Regions from separate parts of the Homo sapiens genome. Here region 1 is linked to region 2. The links come from fine-mapping of genetic effects on gene expression. A gene starts in region 2. The other region holds a variant in brackets. All regions are shown on one strand. Distances are from middle to middle.

Region 1 (12,033 bases), 30 kb before region 2:
GTGTTCAGCTGTGAAACTCACAGTTTGGTAACCCTGACTCCAAAACTCACTCAATATACCCAAGGTCAGCCCCAGTGATCTGCTTCATAGCAAGGACTTTGGGTGGGTCTGCCCAGGGAGTAGGGCACCCTCAAAGAATGTGGCTTTGGACTTCATCACAACTGGGGCCTTTTGCATTACTTAAGAGCTAAACTCGTAACCATGCTAGATCCGTTTCTAATGTGACAACATCACAAACCCTGAGTCCAGAAGCCTAATCCATAATCCTACCTCCTCATGATGAAGTCTCATGCTCTGTGCTGAACGTGGTTAGCTGCACAAGATGTGAACCAAAGCTTCACTGAACCCTCGACCCAAATCGGTAACTCAAGTGTGTCAATCATAATGAACCTCCCCGAACTCAGTATTTATGATTATTTTTGAGTCAGGGTCTCACTCTGTTGCTCGGGCTGGAGTGCAGTGGCAGGATCAGGGCTCCCTGCAGCCCCAACCTCCCAGGCTCCAGTGATCCTCCCACATCACCTGGCTAATTTTTGTATTTTTATGGAGAGGGGATCTCGCCATGTTGCCCAGGCTCGAAGCCGGATCAAGCAATTGGGTTCCTCGGATTTCCAAAATAGACCCCAATATTCTGCCTTTACCCCAGAGGACACAGATGTACCTTCCCTCAGGCTGATGACCTCAGGCCTCACAGTCCCTGGAGCTCTAGGAAACGCGGTGCGATCTCGTGCCCACACCCAGTGCTCTGGGTTATAAGCCTGGATCTGGAAAAACAAACGCCCCTTAAGAAGATGGGGACTCCCCAGGATACCCCTCCCTCCCCTTGTCCAGCCTCCAGCCCACCTGATTCCTCCCCACCTCCTCCACCTACCCCCACCCCGCCTACCTCCTCCAACTACTCCAGGGAAACCCAAGCCCTCCAGCGCATGGAACGGAAGAACTGGAACCGAAGTTTATGGAACAAGGGTATCTGGGAGTGGTTCTTCCCGTACAGGAAGTAGAAAATGTTTCATTTGGAGGCCTCGTTGTCCTCCTCCATGTCATTGGCCAGGTAGCTGGGGACAGAAATCAGGTTGCCGCTCAGGGACACCACCAGGAGAGACCTCTGGCTGAGGTCAGCTTCCCAGAGAGGAGGGCAGGGGACGATCCTCAGCTCAGGACTGGCACCCACCCTGCAGAACCATGCCTTCCTCAGGAGGGCCCTGATTGTCAGAGACCTGCTGAAGGGCGTCTCCCACTCCTTCAGGATGAAGACAAAAACCCAACTGGTGGCCGAGAGTGGTGGCTTACGCCTGGAATCCCAGCACATTGGGAGGCTGAGGCAGGAGGATCATTTGAGGCCAGGAGTTTGAGATGAGCCTGGGCAACATAGCAAGACCCTCGTCTCTATAAAAAATGTAAAAGACACGCCAGACGTGGTGGCTCATGCCTGTAATCCCAGCAATTTGGGAGGCTGAAGCAGGTGGGTCGCTTGAGGCCAGGAGTTCGAGACCAGCCCCATATCTACTAAAGATACAAAAATCAGCCTGGTGTGGTGGCACACCTCTTAGTCCTAGCTACGCAAGAGGCTGAGGCACAAGAATTACATGAACCCAGGAGGAGGAGGTTGCAGTGAGCCGAGATTGGGCCACTCCATTCCAGCCTCAGAGGCAGAACAAGACTCTGTCTCAATAAATAAATAAATAACTGTCCAGGTGTGGTGTCACAGCCCTGTAGTCAAAGCTAATCCGGAGGCTGAGGTGGGAGGATCACTGGAGTACAGGATATGGAGGCTGCAGTGAGCTATGATCTCACCACTGCACTCCAGCTTGGGGGACAGGGCAAGTCTGTCTCAAAAAAATAAAAGAAATTGAATACATTGATATTGTGCCAAGACCCTGCCTTCTACAGGCATCTAGTCTAATGGGACTGGGAGTAATCAGGGCAGATGACGTAATCCCAATATCACATTATAATAGGATGTAACTGGAGAGCTACAAGCATGTAAAAGTTGCAAGATGAGGGAAGGCATCACAGAGGCTATGGGGTGAACTGACTTTAAGGAATGGGTCCTTCCCTTCAGAACCACATGTGTGCGGGACACCCAGACAGAAAACACAAACGCAAAGTCGAGTGGAGGGCATTTGGAAAGAGCGGTGAAGCCACACCAGGAAACACCAAGATGGCGAGCCAGTTTGGTTGTAGAGATTATAGAGAGGGTGGAATTTGCACTGTGGACCCTGGCCTCAATTTAGAAAGACATCAGCTAAGGAAGTTGTTCAGGTGGGCAGTGAGGGTGTTGTGCTTTGGAAAGACGCTCAGGCTGCACTAGGAAGCCCCCAGGCTTGGGGAGAGACTCCAGGAGGCCCCAGCAGGGAGCATTTGACAGTGGATTCGAGTGATGCAAGGGGGACCTGAACTGTTGCCTCTGTCATGGGAACCCGGAGGAGGTCGATGGCGTTTGCAGTTGATATGGGAAGGAGAGAGACAGAAGAACCAGAAATGTCTGCTTGCTGGGGGAAGCATCGTGTCCGCTCCTTTGCTCCTTTTCTTCTCCCCTTAGGAGCGGTTTATGGTTCCTTTTGTTTTATTCTTTTATTTGTACACTGGCGTTGGAATTTGGTTTTTTTGGCTTTTTTTTTTTTTTTTTTTTTTTTTTTTTTGAGAAAAAGTCTCGCTCTGTTGCCCAGGCTGGAATGCAGTGGCTCAAACTTAGCTTACTGCAATGTCTGCCTCCTGGGTTCAACGGGTTCTCTTGCCTGAGCCTCCCGAGTAGTTTGGATTACAGGTGCACACCACCATGCCTGGCTAATTTTTCTATTTTTAGTAGAGATGGGGTTTTGCCATGTTAGTCAGGCTGGTCTCAAACTCCTGACCTCAAGTGATCTGCTTGCCTCGGCCTCCCGAAGTGCTGGGATTATAGGCGTGAGCCACCGCGCCCAGCCTGAGTTTCTTTTTAGAAACAGCAGTCTAAAAACAAGATAGTATAATCCTCTTTTTTGTACACAGAGTAAAGAGGACAAATAGGTGCAAGAATAAATGAAAGGCTGGAATCCCACTTCCCCCGCTGTCCCAGGGTATTGGATATTGACAGATAGGAGGAAGCAAACCACTCACAGAGCCAGGAATAAATGAATGCATTGGTATTGCCGGGAGAAGAGGCCGGCGCGGCTAAAATATGCTATGACCATAGCCAGGAGATACTGGTGGAGAGAAAGGAACACAGAAAGGGAGAGGTCACATCTTGGGAGAGGAAGATCGTGGAGACAGTGGAATGGGGGTCTAGGGAGGGTTTGCCCATCAGAGAAGGGACCTGAGTGTTGGGGTGACTGTGCTCATGTGGAAATTGCGGGGTGGTGGGGTATTTGAAGGTCGGATGCAAATCCGAGAAGCTGGAGGAAGGCATGTTGGTGATGCTCCCAGGATGGTGGGCTCTGATGAGATCTTTGAAGGAGTGTGTCTAGGTCGGCTGGTATCAGGAGGGTCTTTTGTGTGCCAGGCAGAGAACTGTCCCAAAGAACTGAGAGTAAAGGGGCTAGGAGCTTCAGGGCTGCGGCCTGACTGTGGCCCAGAGCTCAGATCCCAAATGACCCATAGGAGAGGCAGGGGCCACTCATTCACTCAGCAAGAGACCAGCAGAGTCCTGAGGGAGATGCTGACAAATAATAAAAAGACCAAGAATAGCCGGGAGTGGCAGCTCAAGCCTGTGATCCCAGAAGTTTGAGAGGCTGAGACAGGAGGATCAAGTGAGTCCAACAGTTCTAGAACAACCTGGGCAACATAGCAAGACTGTTTGTATAAAAATTATTCGAGCATGATGGCATGTGCCTGTACTCCCAACTGCTCAGGAGGCTGAGGCAGGATTGCAAGAGCCCAGGAATTAGAGGCTGTGGTGAGCTGTGATCATGCCACTGCACTCCATCCTGTGGAACACAGCTAGATACTGTCTCGAAAAAAAAAAAAAAACAGGTGGGCACCAAGACTCAAGACTGTGGGAGCCAGAGGGGCACAGTGGCTCACATCTGTAATCCCAGCATTTTGGGAGGCCAAGGCAAGCGGAACACCTGAGGTCAGGTGTTCAAGACCAGCCAGGTCAACATGGCAAAACCCCATCTCTACTAAAAACACAAAAATTAGCCAGCCATGGTGGTGCATGCCTGTAATCCCAGCTGCTTGGGAGGCTGAGGCAGGAGAATGCCTTGAACCCAGGAGGCTTCAGCTGCAGTGAGCCAAGGTTGAGACACTGCCCTCCAGCCTGGGCAACAGAGCGAGACTGTCTCACAAAAAGAAAAGAAGACTGTGGGAGCATCTGGTGGGAAGTGCTGGAGGGAGAGAAGAGAGGAACTGTGGGTTTAGAAGCTGCACCCTCCCCCTGGCAGTGCACTGAAGCAGGAACACGGTTCCGTGGAGAACAAACTTACCTTGTCTGACAACCTCAAATCTTTGTCCCAGGCGAGGAAGCTTTTAATGACAGGATCCTCTGTGATTAGAGAGTAGATGTCAGCTTGAAAAGCAGGACAGGGTTTCCGTGGGAGCAGCAGGGCAGCAAGGAGAAGTGTGTCTCCCAGGGGGAAGTCTCAGGATTGCTGCCACAGGTGAGGTGGATGGGAAAGAGGAGAATGACTTTCACTGGGCAAGGGAGAGAGGCTCCCGCTCTGAGACTCCCCTGAGAAGAGGCTGAAGGAGGCCCTGGGTGTGAGAATCTACAGGATGTAGAGCTGGCAAAAAGCCAGAATGCCCTCCCAGCAGACACAGAGGGACCACTGCAGAGTCATAAAGGAATTCCCATCATTTCCTCATGAGACAGTCACATCAGGGTGTGACTATGGCCTAGGTATCCCCCTCTATGGATGGAGACACTTAGGTTTAGAAAAGTCAGCAAGAGACATTAAGTTTCAGAGGGCACAGCTGAAGCCGCTTTCTTTGATTTTTTATTGTGATTTATTGATTTATTTATTTATTTATTGAGATGGAGTCTCGCTCTGTGGGCCGGGCTGGAATGCAGTGGCATGATCTCAGCTCACTGCAACCTCGGCCTCCCGAGTTCAAGCGATTCTCCTGTCTCAGTCCCCTGAGTAGCTGGGATTACAGGCGTGTGCTACCACGCCTGGCTAATTTTTGTATTTTTAGTAGAGATCAGATTTTACTATGTTGGTCAGGCTGGTCTCTAACTCCTGACCTGCCTCGGCCTCCCAAAGTGCTGGGATTACAGGTTTGAGCTACTGTGCTTTTTCTTTTGAGACAGAGTTTTGCTCTGTCACCCCGGCTGGAGTGCAGTGGTGCCATCATAGCTCACTGCAGCCTCAAAGTCCTGAGTTCAAGCAATCCTCTTAACTCAGCCTGCCAACATGCTGGGATCTCAGACGTGAGCCACCGCACTTGGCCCAAAACCAAGCTTTCTTATCCCAATTGCCAACCTAATCCTAATCTTCTATCATCTCCTAAGTGTCCCTCATGAGTGATCACTTCTGAGTCCTCCCGCATGGAGAGCTCACCCACTGGGGGCATATTTTTCCCATTGGAAAAGTGTGGTTATTGGAAGTTTCCTCTTTTTTAAAAGAACAGGATTGGAGGTGCTCTCTGGGGTGTCCTCCTACCAAGCAGCCTGTTGAAAGTCTCGTGGTGCTCAGGGAGCACGGGTGACACTCGCCATTGCTTCAGCTTCATCTTGAGCCCACACAGCGTCTCCGCCACCCAGGTCTCCTCAGGCTCAGGGGCGAGCTCCTTCTCTGGCTCCTCCTCCGATGACTCCTCAGATTCGTCCGACCACTCCCTCTTCCTTTTCCAGCAAAGGGACCCACACAGGGGGCTGGGATCTACCCCAGGGGCTGAGTAAAGAAACCAGGCCACTGTATAATGCTTCTGCAATTGAACTCCTTAGAGCCAGACCCAAAACGCCAAACCACTCTCCATCCTCCCCAGCCTCGCAGACTGCTGGCTTCTCCAAGCCATCTTTCCGTCTTTCTCCTTTGCTGAACCCCATGAGCCGCTCCTTCCCCTCCCCATTCTTCCATCTCTCTGTCCTCAGAACACTTCCTCATTTCCTTCCCTCATCCCTAGTTCTCTGAGTCTCTCCTTTTTTTTTTTTTTTTTTTTTGACACAGAGTCTTGCTTTGTCGCCCAGGCTGGAGTGTAGTAGTGCAATCT[C/T]GGCTCACTGCAATCTCCGTCTCCCAGGTTCCAGTGATTCTCCTGCCTCAGCCTCCCAAGTAGCTGGGATTACAGGTGCCCGTAATAACGCCCAGCTCATTTTTGTTCTTTTAGTAGGGATGGGGTTTCACCATGTTGGCCAGGCTGGTCTCAAACTCCTGGCCTCAAGTGATCCGCCTGCCTTGGCCTCCCGAAGTGCTGGGATTACAGGTGTGAGCCACTGCACCCTGCCTCAGTCCCTCCATTCTTCCCACACACCTCCTCAGGTGCTCCTTCCTGACTTCTGGGCCCGTCCTTGTTTTTTTTTTTTTGTTTTTTTTGTTTTTTTTGCCACAGGGTCTCAGTCTCTCAGACTGGAGTGCAGTGGTGCTATCTCGGCTCAAAGCAACCTCTGCCTCCCGGGTTCTAGAGATTCTCCTGTCTCAGCCTCCCAAGTAGCTGGGAATACAGGCGTGCGCCACCACACCCGGCTAAGTTTTGTATTTTTAGTATTGACTAGGTTTCACTATATTGGTCAGGCTGGTCTCGAACAACTGACCTCAGGTGATCCACCCGCCTCAGCCTCCCAAAGTGCTGGGATTACAGACATGAGCTACTGCGCCCGGCCTTTGGTTTTCTTTTGAAACAGGGTTTTGTTCTGTCATGCAGGCTGGAGTGCAGTCGTGCAGTCATAGCTCACTGCAGCCTCAAAGTCCTGAGTTCAAGCAATTCTCTTGCCTCAGCCTCCCAGTGTGCTGGGATCTCAGGCATCAGCCACAGCACCTGTCCCGAAACCAAACTTTCTTTTTTTGTTGTTTTTTTGTTTTTTTGAGACAGAGTCTCTCTCTGTCACCCAGGCTGGAGTGTAGTGGCGCGATCTCAGCTCACTGCAAGCAACACCTCCGGGGTTCACGCCATTCTGCTGCCTCAGCCTCCCAAGTAGCTAGGACTACAGGCGCCCACCACCACGCCCAGCTAATTTTTTATATTTTTAGAAAGACTGTGTTTCACCATGTTAGCCAGGATGGTCTCGATCTCCTGACCTCGTAATCCGCCCGCCTCGGCCTCCGAAAGTGCTGGGATTACAGACGTGAGCCACAGCGCCCAGCCCAAAACCAAGCTTTCTTATCCCGAGAGCCAAACTTTATCAACTCCAGCCTAATCCTCTATCATCTCCTAAGCGTCCCTCATGAGTGATCACTTCTGAGTCCTCCCGCATGGAGAGCTCACCCACTGGGGGCATATTTTTCCCATTGGAAAAGTGTGGTTATTGAAAGTTTTCCTCGTTTTTAAAAGAACAGGATTGGAGGTGCTCTCTGGGGTGTCCTCCTACCAAGCAGCCTGTTGAAGTCCTCATGGTGCTCAGGGAGCACGAATGACACTAGCCGTTGCTTCAGCTTCAGCTTCATTTTGAGCCCACACAGCATCTCCGCCACCCAGGTCTCCTCAGGCTCAGGGGCGAGCTCCTTCTCTGGCGCCTCCTCCGATGACTCCTCAGATTGGTCCGACCACTCCCTCTTCCTTTTCCAGCAAAGGGACCTACATGGGAGGCTGGGATCTACCCCAGGGGCTGAGTAAAGAAACCAGGCCACCATGTAATGCTTCTGCAACTGATCACCTTAGACCCCGACCCCGACCCCAACCCCAAACCACTCTCCATCCTCCCCAGCCTTGCAGACTGTTGGCTTCTCCAAGCCATCTTTCTGGCTTTCTCCTCTGCTCAACCCCATGAGCCGCTCCTTCCCCTCCCCATTCTTCCGTATCTCTGTCCTCAGAACACTTCTTCATGTCCTTCCCTGGTCCCTGGCTCTCTGAGTCCCTCCTTTTTTGCTTGTTTTTTTGTTATTGGTTTTTTTTTTTTTTGTTTCGAGACAGAATCTTGCTTTGTCGCCCGGGCTGGAGTGTAGTGGTGCAATCTCAGTTCACTGCAACATCTGTCTCCCGGATTCCAGTTATTCTCATGCCTCAGCCTCTCAGGTAGCTGGGATTACAGGTATCTGCCATAATGCCCAGCTCAATTTTGTACTTTTAGTAGAGATGGGGTTTCACCATGTTGACCAGGCTGGTCTCAAACTCCTGGCCTCAAGTGATCTGCCCGCCTTGGCCTCCCAAAGTGCTGGGATTACAGGTGTGAGCCACTGCACCTGGCCTGAATTTCTCCATTCTTCCCATACACCCTCCTCAGGTTCTCCTTCCTGACCTCTGACCCTTCTTTTTTTTTTTTTTTTTTTTGAGACAGTGTCTCACTCTCTCACCCAGACTGGAGTGCGGTAGCACAATCTTGGCTCACTGCAACCTCTTCCTCCCAGGCTCAAGTGATTCTCCTGTCTCAGCCTCCCAAATAGCTGGGATTACAGGCGCGCACCACTACCACCTGGCTAATTTTTGTACTTTTAGTAGAGATGGGGTTTCACCATGTTGGCCAGGCTCGTCTTGAACTCCTGACCTCAGGTGATCCATCCGCCTCGGCCTCCCAAAGTGTTAGGGTTACAGGTGTGAGCCACTGCACCTGGCCCCCTTCCTTCACCTTAGTCAATCCTATCCCACCTCTTCTTCCTCCAGTCCCCTCACCTGATGGTCCCGACACTTCATCATCCACCACCTCCTGGAGGGGGTACCCTGAGGTGCTCAGCTGGGGGCTCTGCTCCTCATCCTGGGGGTGCGGTTGATGGCTGGTCATGATCTTTCCCAAAATCTATCCCAACCCACGGAACCTAGTCTCTGTTCTATCCAAGGCCTTCTTCTGGACTCTGCTAGGACCCAGAAGGTGTGTTATCAATTCTCGAGGCTGAGAGAAGTCAGGAGTGGAGAACAGCTCTGAGAAGATGCAGTTGTCCACTTGAGCTCCCAGATGCCCATGGAGTCCAGTCCTTCCAATCAGGAAGGTTGGAATCTCTGATGTCATTGGTCATTCCAACCTGGCAACCAGTTTGAAGAAAAACACATGTAACTGCCAGGCTGGTCTCTTGTCCTGGAGATCCTGGGTGAATGGTATCTCCTGCCACTGTCCCAACCTCAGACCACCATCCAAAAGCATCTTCAGGGTCTCCGCATCCATCTGTTCCCTGTCCCAGCAGAGGCTGTGTCTTCTCCACTCAAAGCCTGAAGCATTTTGGGGTCTCCTCTTCTCTGTACATGCCCATTTCAGAGTCCAGTCTGGTGGGAGAGGGAGGGTGGGAAAGAAAACTAGGGTAAGCAGAAACTATGAAACCTTACAAGTGTGAGATTATCATATACAAGAGATCCCAGGAACATTGACTTGATGAAAAAGTCACATCAGAGCACTCAATTTGGCAGAGCTTTTCTGCCGAATGTTTACTGACATTCACTGTCCGAGATTCTATACTGGGGGTACACGTGTCCTCTGCCGTAAGGCATCTTTGAGTCCAAGAGACATTTTGAGGCCTGAAAATCATAGGAAACTGCCCATGAGCTCACTCATATTTCCAATGGTGTCCCCAGTTTCAGGGAGTCCATGGATTACCTAAGGCCAGCCCCTCCAGTTCGGCTAAGAAACTCTAGTCTATATATTAAGTTTTGTATCATATGTATTGCTCTGAACTCAGAAATTTCCCTACCATTTATGGATTCTATGAATAAAATATCGCATGTACAAAAAGACTAAGTCGAAAAATCTCAGCTGTGCACAGTGGCTCATGTTTGTAATCCCAGCACTTTGGGTGGCCAAGGGAGGAAGATTGCCTGAGGCCAGCAGTTCAAGACCAGTGTAGGCAACATAGCATGACCCCATCTCTAAAAAAACAAAACCAAACCAAATTAGCCAGGTGTGGTGGCTGGCACCTTGTTCCAACTACTTGGGAGACTCATGCGACAGGAAGATCGCTTGAGCCCAGGACTTAGAAGCTGCAGTGAGCTATGATCTTGCCACCGCACTCCAGTCTAGGCAACACAGCAAGACGTTGTGTCAAAAAAAATTTTTTTGATAAAAAATAAAAGAGTTGGATGACATTCAGAGACCATCCAAAAAACCTGTCAGTTCCTGGCCGGGCTCAGTGGCTCACGCCTGTAATCCCAGCACTTTGGGAGGCCAAAGGAAGTGGATCACTTGAGGTCAGGAGTGTGAGACCAGCCTGGCCAACATGGTGAAACCCCGTCTCTACTAAAAATACAAAAAATTAGCCAGGCATGGTGGCGGGTGCCTGTAATCCCAGCTACTCAGGAGCGGGGACTGGAGAATCACTTGAACTCGGGGTGCGGAGGTTGCCGTGAGCCAAGATCGCACCATTGCTCTCCAGCCTGGGCAACAAGAGCAAAACTCCGTCTCAAAAAAATAAACAAAGAACCTGTGAGTGAGTTCCCATATGGCTTCCTAATGGGCTGTGGCTCTCCTAGGAGTCTCTTGCTCATGGGAAAGGCCCAAACTGAATGAGGAAGCAGATCCCATTGCTATGGAAGTCCCATTGGTAGGAAGCTCTGCTTTTCTGGAGTTCAAATTTCCATTCATGACGCTTTAAACCGCCAGAGCTGGGTGGGTCCTGACAAAACAGTTTGCTATCTCTCTCCTAGTTAACAGGCTTTCATATATTAGAAGATCAATGTTCTGACCCCATTAAAAGTTCTCTTTTGTGGAATGAAAAGCTCTGATTTAACCCATCTTCAAACCTGGTTTGCATATTCTTCTCTCTTCTGGCACACCACCATGCCTGATTAAGTTTTTTTTTTTTTTTTTTTTTTTTTTGGCAGGGACAGGGTTTTGCCATGTTGCCGAGGCTAGTCTTGAACTCCTGGTCTCAAGCAATCTCCTCACCTCAGCCTCCCAAAGTGCTAGCAGTAGAGGCATGAGCCACCACACCAGGCCAAGGCTATTATTCTGACTTAGGGGTTTTTTATTTGTTTCATTTTGTTTTTCCTACAGAGTCGGTATTTCTTCAATAGATATATCTCAAAGCAGAAGCTGGCTAACATCATCCTGGAACTTCAATTTTCCTAACATCAGAGATGCAATAAAACTTTGGACAAATAGAGTATGGTCTATATACAGCTGGTGCCAGAACTGCATAACCCAGGTATGGATGTGACATCCCTGTTTTCAGTGCTATAGTTTTTCTACACACTTGGTGTTTATATACATATGTGCTCAAGTCAGTCCAACCCTCAAGCTAAACTTAGATAAGATGAAATTATTGAGTCAAGTCTGCCTTTGCTTCTATAAAAACATACATCAAGTCACTTTCTGGTTCCTGTTTTCTTGTCCTTATCATATTACTCATAGGACTCAGAATTGTTTATTATTAATTTCAGAGTTTAGAAGTATTGAAAGACACCATCTTTCCATCTCGTATCTGCCACCGAGAACTTTACAGTGTAAAACAACAGTTTTGCATTTTGGAAAGTAAATTATGCAAGCTCCAGGAAGCACTGAAGGTTGGTATTGTCAAATAAAAAGCAAATCTGGAATTAGGTAAGGAGACACTTTTTTTGAAAAGACTATTGCAATAGGGAAAATGCTCAAGTCATAAGATTTATATCTCAAACATTAAGCGAAAAAGTTTTCTTTGTTAGCAAGGAATACAAAGGGTAGAACAAACTGGGTTATGGGGAAGTAAGATGAAGAGCTGGGATAATCTGATCAGATAGCTGATTGGATCAGGGAACATCTTTTCCTGAAGGTTCTTCAGCATACCAATGCTTGCTTAAGCCCAAGAATAGGTCAAGGTTCTAGGGCCTATGGGGAGGGCTAAATCCTGACTAAAGTTTGGTCAAGTTAGTAGATATATTGTCCAGATTGGTCAGTGGCAGTGAACAGTTCAGCTAATCACTTATGAGACAAAGAATGGGAATTTGGAGGGTCTGTGTCTGGCTTTGTCAGATAAATGAGGGAGCCATCCATAAAACTTATCTAACTGATGTGGAAAAAGTTGGTTCCACATCACTTCCAAAATAAAAAATTATTTCCTGGACATAAAA
Region 2 (9,642 bases):
GCCAAGAGTTCAAAACAAGCCTGGGCAACATTGCAAGACCCCAACTCTACAAAAAACGAAAAATTAGCCGGGAGCGGTGATGTGTGCCTGTAGTCCCAGCTACTCAGGAGACTGAGGTGGGAGAATCACTTGAGCCTGGGAGGTTGAGGCTGCAGTGAGCTGTGTTTATACCACTGCACTCCAGCCTGCTGGGTAACAGAGCAAGACTCCATCTCAAAAAGAAAAGAAAAAATGCTTTGCTACATAATGAGGCCAGGCAAAAAAAAAAAAGTCCTGTGGAAATCATATAGACAAACATTTGCAAAGCTGCTACTGCCATTGTACCAGTGTTAAACTGTGTTCTACCTTGCATCTTTTACTGATTTTTATGACAGATTTTATATTGTAACCATTCGAGAACTCTGTAAGTGCTATGGCTTCCTTAAACTACGATTTATCATATGCTCCCGGTGTTTACTTTGAGACTGAATGGCAACCAGAGAATGTAAACAACCAAGGTGCATCTGGTTATGTTTTAAAATAAAGATTAATAAAAGTTTTGGTTTTTCTCTTTCTAACCTTCTTTTTAAACTAGAAATATAATACCTATAGAAAAGTAAATGTTGGCCGGGTGCGGTGGCTCATGCCTATAATCCCAGCACTTTGGGAGGCCGAGGCAGGCAGATCACCTGAGGTCAAGAGTTCGAGACCAGTCTGGCCAACATGGTGAAACCCTGTCTCTACTAAAAATACAAAAATTAGCCGGGCATAGTGGCAGACACCTGTAATCCCAGCTACTGGGAAGGCTGAGCCAGAATGGCTTGAACCTGGGAGGCAGAGGTTGCAGTGAGCCGAGATCGCCCCATTGCACTCCAGCTTGAGCAACAAGAGCGAAACTGTCTCAAAAAAAAAAAAAAAGTATATGTTAAGTATAGAAAAATATATAAATTAAAAAATTATAGGCTTGGGGGCCAGGCACAGTGGCTCACACCTGTAATCCCAGCACTTTGGGAGGCCGAGGTGGGTGTATCACTTGAGGTCAGGAGTTTGAGACCAGCCTGGCCAACATGGTGAAACCCCGTCTCTACCAAAAAAAATATATAAAAATTATCTGGGTGTGGTGGCATGTGCCTATAGTCTCAGCTTCTCAGAAGACTGAGGCGTGAGAATCACTTGAACGATGGAAGTGGAGGTTGCAGTGAGCTGAGATCACACTACTGCACTACAGTCTGGGCAACAGAGTGAGACCTTGTCTCAAAAAAAAAAGAAAGAAAAAGAAAAATGCTTTATGGCCCAGTGCAGTGGCTCACACCTATAATCCTAGCACTTTGGGAGGCTAAGGCAGGAGGTTCGCTTGAGGCCAAGAGTTCAAAACAAGCCTGGGCAACACTGCAAGACCCCAACTCTACAAAAAACGAAAAATTAGCCGGGAGCGGTGATGTGTGCCTGTAGTCCCAGCTACTCAGGAGACTGAGGTGGAAGAATCACTTGAGCCCGGGAGGTTGAGGCTGCAGTGAGCTGTGTTTATACCACTGCACTCCAGCCTGCTGGGTAACAGAGCAAGACTCCATCTCAAAAAGAAAAGAAAAAATGCTTTGCTACATAATGAGGCCAGGCAAAAAAAAAAAGTCCTGTGGAAATCATATAGACAAACATTTGCAAAGCTGCTACTGCCATTGTACCAGTGTTAAAATGTGTTCTACCTTGCATCTTTTACTGATTTTTATGACAGATTTTATATTGTAACCATTTGAGAACTCTGTAAGTGCTATGGCTTCCTTAAACTACGATTTATCATATGCTCCCAGTGTTTACTTTGAGACTGAATGGCAACCAGAGAATGTAAACAACCAAGGTGCATCTGGTTATGTTTTAAAATAAAGATTAATAAAAGTTTTGGTTTTTCTCTTTCTAACCTTCTTTTTAAACTAGAAATATAATACCTATAGAAAAGTAAATGTTGGCCGGGTGCGGTGGCTCATGCCTATAATCCCAGCACTTTGGGAGGCCGAGGCAGGCAGATCACCTGAGGTCAAGAGTTCGAGACCAGTCTGGCCAACATGGTGAAACCCTGTCTCTACTAAAAATACAAAAATTAGCCGGGCATAGTGGCAGACACCTGTAATCCCAGCTACTGGGAAGGCTGAGCCAGAATGGCTTGAACCTGGGAGGCAAAGGTTGCAGTGAGCCGAGATCGCCCCATTGTACTCCAGCTTGAGCAACAAGAGCGAAACTGTCTCAAAAAAAAAAAAAGTATATGTTAAGTATAGAAAAATATATAAATTAAAAAATTATAGGCTTGGGGGCCAGGCACAGTGGCTCACACCTGTAATCCCAGCACTTTGGGAGGCTGAGGTGGGAGGATCACTTGAGGCCAAGAGTTTGAAACCAGTATGGGCAACATTGCAAGACCCTGTCTCTACAAAAAACAAAAAATTAGCCGGGCATGGTGGCATGTGCCTGTAGTCCCAGCTACTCGGGAGACTGAGGTGGGAGAATCACTTGAGTCCAGGAGGTTGAGGCTCCAGCGAGCAGTGTTCATACCACCTGCACTCCAGCCTGCTGGGTGACAGAGCAAGATGCTGTCTCAAAAAAAAAAAAAAAAAAAAAAGAAAGAAAAAAGAAAAATGCTTTGCTATATAACGAAGCCAGGCAGGAAAAAAAAGTCCATATAGATAAACATTTGCAAAGCTGCTACTGCCATTGTACAGTGTTAAAATGTGTTCTACCTTGCATCTTTAAATAAAGATTAATAAAAGTTTTGGTTTTTCCCTTTTTAACCTTTTTTTTTAACTAGAAATAATAATACCTATAGAAAAGTATATATTGGCCGGGCGCAGTGGCTCACGCCTGTAATCCCAGCACTTTGGGAGCCCAAGGCAGGTGGATCATGAGGTCAGAAGATCAAGACCATCCTGGCTAACACGGTGAAACCTGGTCTCTACTAAAAATACAAAAAATTAGCCGGGCGTGGTGGCAGGCGCCTGTAGTCCCAGCTACTTGGGAGGCTGAGGCAGGAGAATGGCATGAACCCGGGAGGCAGAGCTTGCAGGGAGCTGAGATCACGCCACTGCACTCCAGCCTGGGCAACAGAGTGAGACTCTGTCTCAAAAAAACAAAAAAGTATATAGTAAGTATAGAAAATATATGAATTAAAAAATCAATGCCGAGCGTGATGGCTCAAACCTATAATCCCAGCACTTTGGGAGGCCGGGGTGGGCAGATCACCTGGGGTTGGAAGTTCGAGACCAGCCTGGCTAACGTGGGGAAACCCCATCTCTACTAAAAATACAAGTTTAGGTGGGCGTGGTGGTACGTGCTTGTAATCCCAGCTACTTGGGAGGCTGAGGCAGAAGAATTGCTTGAGGAGACGGAGACAGGGAATAGGAGATGGAGGTTGCCGTGATCCCAGATAGCACCACTGCACTTCAGCCTGGGTGACAGAGTGAGACTCTGTCTCACAAAAAAAAAAAAAAAAAATTTTAGGCCGGAGGCGAGGTGTGGTGGCTGACACCTGTAATCCCAGCACTTTGGGAGGCCGAGGTGGGTGGATGATGTGAGGTCGGGAGTTCGAGACCAGCCTGGCCAACATGGTGAAACACCATCTCTACTAAAAATACAAAAATTAGCCGCCCATGGTGGTGCACCTGTAATCCCAGCTCCTTGGGAGGCTGAGGCAGTAGAATCACTTGAACCTGGGAGGTGGAGTTTGCAGTGAGCTTAGATTGCACCACTGTACTCCACTCTGGGCAACAGAGCAAGACTCTGTCTCAAAATATATATAATATATATTATTATGTATATATATAATATATATTATTATGTATATGTGTAATATATATTATTATGTATATATATAATATATATATTATATCATAATCCCTTCCCTCACTAAGTAATCACTGACCTACTTGGTACAATAAATATTTCCTTGCTTTTAGTAAGAACACACCCCTAAATGCAATGGTTTATTTTGCTTGCTTTTGAACTCTATAGAAATAAAATCAGGCCTGGCGCAGTGGCTCTCGCCTGTAATCCCACCACTTTGGGAGGCCGAGGCGGGCAGATCATGAGATCAGGAGATTGAGACTATCCTGGCCAACATGGTGAAATCCTGTCTCTATTAAAAATACAAAAGTTAGCTGGGTGTGGTCTCACGCACCTGTAATCCCAGCTACTTGGGAGGCTGAGGCAAGAGAATCACTTGCACCGGGGAGCCGGAGGTTGCAGTGAGTCGAGATCGCGCCACTGAACTCTAGCCTGGCCACAGAGCAAGACTGCATCTCCAAAAAAAAAAAAAAAAAAAAAAAAAAATAGAATTATAGGGTATATACACTTTTGTTTCTGATTTCTTTCAATCAACATTTATTTTAAAGATTCAGTCATGTTATTGTATAGTGCTATAGATAATTTTTTTAGATTCAAAGATTTTTATTTTTTACAAAACCCCAGAATAATAAACGTTATAATTATACATTTAAATCTGGTTGTAAGTTTTATCCTGGCAGCTATTTGTCAATATGCCTTCTAGTTAGAGAGGTTCTGCAAGTTATAATTTACATACAAAGATATTTCGCAATTTTTTTTTTTTTTGAGACGGAGTCTCACTCTGTCGCCCAGGCTGGAGTGCAGCGGGGTGATCTCGGCTCACTGCAACCTCCACCTCCTGGTTCGAGCAATTCTCCTGCCTCAGCCTCCTGAGCAGCTGGAACTACAGGTATGCGCCACCACGCCTAATTTTTGCTTTTTTTTTTTTTTTTTTTTTTTTTTTTAGACGGTTTTCGCTCTTGTTGCCCAGGCTGGAGTGCAATGGTGTGATCTCGGTTCACTGCAACTTCCGCCTCCCGGGTTCAAGCGATTGTCCTGCCTCAGCCTCCCGAGTAGCTGGGATTACAGGCGCCCGCCACCACGCCCGGCTAATTTTCGTATTTTTAGTAGAGATGGGGTTTCACCATGTTGGCCAGCCTGGTCTCGAACTCCTGACTTCAGGTGATCCGCCCGCCTTGGCCTCCCAAAGTGCTAGGATTACAGGCGTGAGCCACCGCAGTAGTCCCAGTTTTGTTTTGTTTTTTTGTTTTTTGTTTTTGATATCTCAATTCCTACAGTTGAGGAAACAAACTAGGAGAGGAGAAGAGGAGGCGGAACTCAAGTGACGGGAAAGCAGGAACTGAAGAAGCGGAGGAAGGATTTCAAAATTGGACGAAAGCCGGTCGGTTTTACTAACGGACCGGAAGGACTCTAGAGAACGCTCTGCACTATGGCTGGTCCCGTGAGCTTGCGAGACCTTCTAATGGGAGCATCAGCCTGGATGGGCTCTGAAAGTCCCGGAGGGTCCCCTACTGAGGGCGGAGGGAGCGCGGCTGGCGGACCGGAGCCTCCATGGCGGGAGGATGAGATCTGCGTTGTGGGAATCTTCGGCAAGACGGCTCTACGCCTGAATTCCGAGAAGTTCTCTCTTGTGAATACGGTGTGCGACCGACAGGTCTTTCCTCTCTTTCGCCACCAAGATCCTGGGGATCCAGGACCTGGAATCAGAACTGAGGCTGGCGCCGTGGGTGAGGCCGGTGGAGCCGAGGACCCTGGGGCTGCAGCCGGGGGTTCAGTTCGGGGAAGTGGAGCTGTCGCGGAAGGTAACCGAACTGAGGCAGGCTCCCAGGACTACAGCCTTCTGCAGGCCTACTACAGTCAGGAAAGCAAAGTTCTGTATCTTCTCCTCACCTCCATCTGTGACAATTCACAGCTTCTCCGGGCTTGTCGGGCTCTTCAGAGCGGGGAAGCTGGAGGTGGACTCTCTTTACCTCATGCAGAAGCACACGAGTTCTGGAAGCATCAAGAGAAGCTGCAGTGCCTCAGTCTCCTTTACCTATTCTCTGTCTGTCATATCTTGCTTCTGGTCCATCCCACTTGTTCCTTTGATATCACTTATGATCGAGTATTCAGAGCCCTGGATGGGCTGAGACAGAAGGTCCTGCCGCTCCTTAAAACAGCCATTAAGGATTGTCCAGTTGGCAAAGACTGGAAGCTAAACTGCCGACCTTGCCCACCTAGACTCCTTTTCCTCTTTCAACTCAATGGAGCCCTCAAGGTAGAACCTCCTCGGAACCAAGACCCAGCTCATCCAGACAAGCCCAAGAAACATTCTCCCAAAAGGAGGCTGCAGCATGCCCTGGAGGACCAGATCTATAGAATCTTCCGGAAGAGTCGTGTCTTGACTAATCAGAGCATCAACTGCCTCTTTACTGTGCCTGCCAACCAAGCTTTCGTGTACATAGTACCGGGAAGCCAGGAGGAGGACCCAGTAGGTATGTTGCTGGACCAACTTAGGAGTCATTGTACTGTGAAGGACCCGGAATCTTTGCTGGTGCCTGCACCCCTTTCTGGGCCTAGGCGATACCAGGTGATGAGGCAGCACAGCCGACAACAACTTTCCTTTCACATTGACAGCAGCAGTTCCAGTTCTTCAGGCCAGCTAGTGGATTTCACTCTTCGGGAATTCCTATGGCAGCATGTGGAGCTAGTTCTAAGCAAGAAAGGTTTCGATGACAGTGTGGGCAGGAACCCACAGCCTTCCCATTTTGAACTTCCTACTTATCAGAAGTGGATCTCAGCAGCTTCAAAACTGTATGAGGTGGCTATTGATGGGAAAGAAGAGGACTTGGGGTCACCCACTGGAGAGCTAACATCTAAGATTTTAAGCAGTATTAAAGTCTTGGAAGGATTTTTGGATATTGACACAAAATTCTCAGAAAACCGATGCCAAAAAGCTTTACCCATGGCCCACAGTGCCTACCAGTCAAATTTGCCTCATAATTACACAATGACTGTCCATAAGAATCAGCTTGCCCAGGCTCTTCGAGTGTACAGTCAACATGCTAGAGGTCCAGCATTTCACAAATACGCCATGCAGTTACATGAGGACTGCTACAAATTTTGGAGCAATGGCCATCAGCTCTGTGAGGAGAGGAGTTTAACTGATCAACACTGTGTGCACAAATTTCACTCATTACCTAAATCAGGTAGCTAAAATTTGTTCAGCATTTTGAAATAAAAACTTTGAGCTGTGTTTTCATTCTTGTTTTAAGATAGTCTGTTCACTATGTATTGATATTTTAGAAAGAGCCCTACAGAAATTTAGGTGCATCAGCTATACGTTTTCTCTCCTGCTGTAAAAGGAAAATATCAGCTATGACTACTTTCTTATTTTTTTTCATTTAAAGGATACGTCCTAGTGAATTGGTAAGTGAGAATTATTAAGTAGTATAAAATTTCAGACATCTCATATTAACACTTTGCCTTGGAGGATTTGTAGAACTAAAATGAATGTTATGTTAGATGATGGTACATGATAATGGTAGCAGGAGGAAAAATTCACTTAAAAACTCTAAACTTTACATTTATAATATAAAGTATTTTATATACTTTCACTTGCTTCTTCTGTTATGTGTATTTAGGTAAGGTTTTTGTTTGTGGGGTTAGATGTTGTAGAATGCAAAGTAAATTCGCACATTGTGTTTATGAAATTAATAGTGGCTGTTATATTTTCCAGGAGAAAAACCAGAGGCTGATAGAAATCCGCCTGTGCTATATCACAATAGCCGAGCTCGATCTACTGGTGCTTGCAACTGTGGAAGGAAACAAGCACCTCGAGATGATCCCTTTGATATCAAAGCAGCCAATTATGACTTCTATCAGGTAGACTCTGAATTTTTTCTTCTTCCTCTTCTGTCTTTTTTTGTTAAATATCATCTGAGTAAAAACATATTTTCAATAGCAGAGTAAGTAGAAAAGCAAATGCAACTGCAGTATAATATATAAACAGGAGCAAATTCTTTATGTGTACATATTTACTTACACATCAATTATTGATCTTGTTAGAATGAAGAATATTATTTAAAATGAAAAACTTACTGGATTTTTTTTCTTACCCTCTATAGCTTCTGGAAGAAAAGTGTTGTGGAAAATTGGATCATATCAATTTCCCAGTATTTGAACCAAGTACTCCAGATCCTGCTCCTGCTAAAAATGAATCCTCTCCTGCTCCTCCAGATTCGGATGCTGATAAACTTAAAGAAAAAGAACCTCAAACCCAAGGAGAGAGCACGAGCCTGAGTTTAGCTTTGAGTTTGGGCCAATCCACAGATAGCTTAGGTACCTATCCAGCTGATCCACAAGCAGGAGGAGATAATCCAGAAGTTCATGGTCAAGTAGAAGTGAAAACTGAGAAGAGGCCAAACTTCGTTGATCGACAGGCATCCACAGTTGAGTATCTCCCAGGCATGCTACATTCAAATTGCCCTAAAGGTCTCCTACCCAAATTCTCCAGCTGGTCTTTGGTTAAACTAGGCCCTGCTAAGTCTTATAACTTTCATACAGGTTTGGACCAACAGGGCTTTATTCCAGGAACAAATTATCTTATGCCTTGGGACATTGTCATCAGGACTAGAGCTGAAGATGAAGGAGACTTAGACACAAACTCTTGGCCTGCTCCAAATAAAGCTATTCCTGGAAAGAGAAGTGCGGTTGTAATGGGAAGAGGAAGACGGCGAGATGACATAGCTCGAGCTTTTGTGGGCTTTGAATATGAAGACTCTCGAGGTCGGAGATTCATGTGCTCTGGGCCTGACAAAGTAATGAAAGTAATGGGAAGTGGGCCAAAGGAATCAGCTTTAAAAGCCCTAAATAGTGACATGCCCTTATATATTCTGTCATCCTCTCAAGGTAGAGGGCTGAAACCTCATTATGCTCAACTTATGAGGCTTTTTGTTGTGGTTCCTGATGCTCCTTTGCAGATAATACTAATGCCTCAGGTAAGAAATATAACCCTCTGCAGCCCCAAACAAGTAAAAAATGCTGATGTTTGTTTTGATTGATTTTAAAAAGTACAAGTTAGCCTCAAAACTAATTATTTCAGGCTGAGGGCAGTGGCTCATGCTTGTAATCCCAGAACTTTGGGAGGCCAAGGTGGGAGGATTGCTTGAGCCCAGGAGTTTAAGACCAGCCTGAGCAACATAGTGAGACTTGTATCTCTACAAAAAATTAAATTAAAAAACGAATTATTTAATTAAACAGGTCTTAAATTTAAATACCTTCCATACCTAATATTCTGTTTTTTAAAAAATACATTGTGGGTATTTTAATCCGTTCATGCTATCAATTCACATCATTTCATTCAAAGGCAGAACTTGAAGTTAAAATTCTGGAGAAAAGGCCGGGTACAGTGAGTCACGCCTGTATTTCCAGCACTTTGGGAGGCCAAGGCAGGCGGATCACCTGAAGTCAGGAGTTCGAGACAAGCCTGGGCAACATGGCGAAACCCCGTCTCTACTAAAAATACAAAAAATTAGCCAGGCGTGGTGGAAGGCGCCTGTAATCCCAGCTACTTGGGAGGCTGAGGCAGGAGAATCACTTGAATCAACCTGTAAGCGGAGGTTGCAGTGAGCCGAGATCGCGCCATTGCACTCCAGCCTGGGTGACTAAGAAAGACTCCATTCCCCCTGCAAAAAAAAAAGTTCTGGGGAAAAGCAGAATAATATTTGAGACTAAATAATATACTATTGGATACAATTAGAGTTAGGAGTGTACCCATATCTGCTTAATCTTATATATTCTTTTATTTATTTATTTGTTTGTTTTTTTGAGACAGTCTCGCTCTGTTGCACAGGC

The links.
Region 1: its variant is fine-mapped to the expression of SMG8 in whole blood (TOPMed, PIP 0.92).

What each region holds. Positions count from the first base shown.
Region 1 is chr17:59,174,073-59,186,105 of GRCh38, forward strand. PRR11 (proline rich 11) reads left to right here. Exons shown (of 10, transcript NM_018304.4): 3 at 10,982-11,132; 4 at 11,368-11,490. It also overlaps the pseudogene SPDYE22P. Among named protein-coding and RNA genes, the nearest start is that of PRR11, 24 kb to the left of the region's middle. RefSeq lists an enhancer at 8,306-8,807. The variant C/T (reference allele first, on the strand shown) is at 6,127.
Region 2 is chr17:59,204,816-59,214,457 of GRCh38, forward strand. It overlaps SMG8 (SMG8 nonsense mediated mRNA decay factor), which reads left to right and starts at 5,220. Exons shown (of 4, transcript NM_018149.7): 1 at 5,220-6,995; 2 at 7,526-7,671; 3 at 7,914-8,786. The coding sequence starts at 5,237. PRR11 (proline rich 11) reads left to right here. Exons shown (of 10, transcript NM_018304.4): 10 at 1-1,894. RefSeq lists an enhancer at 5,029-5,098.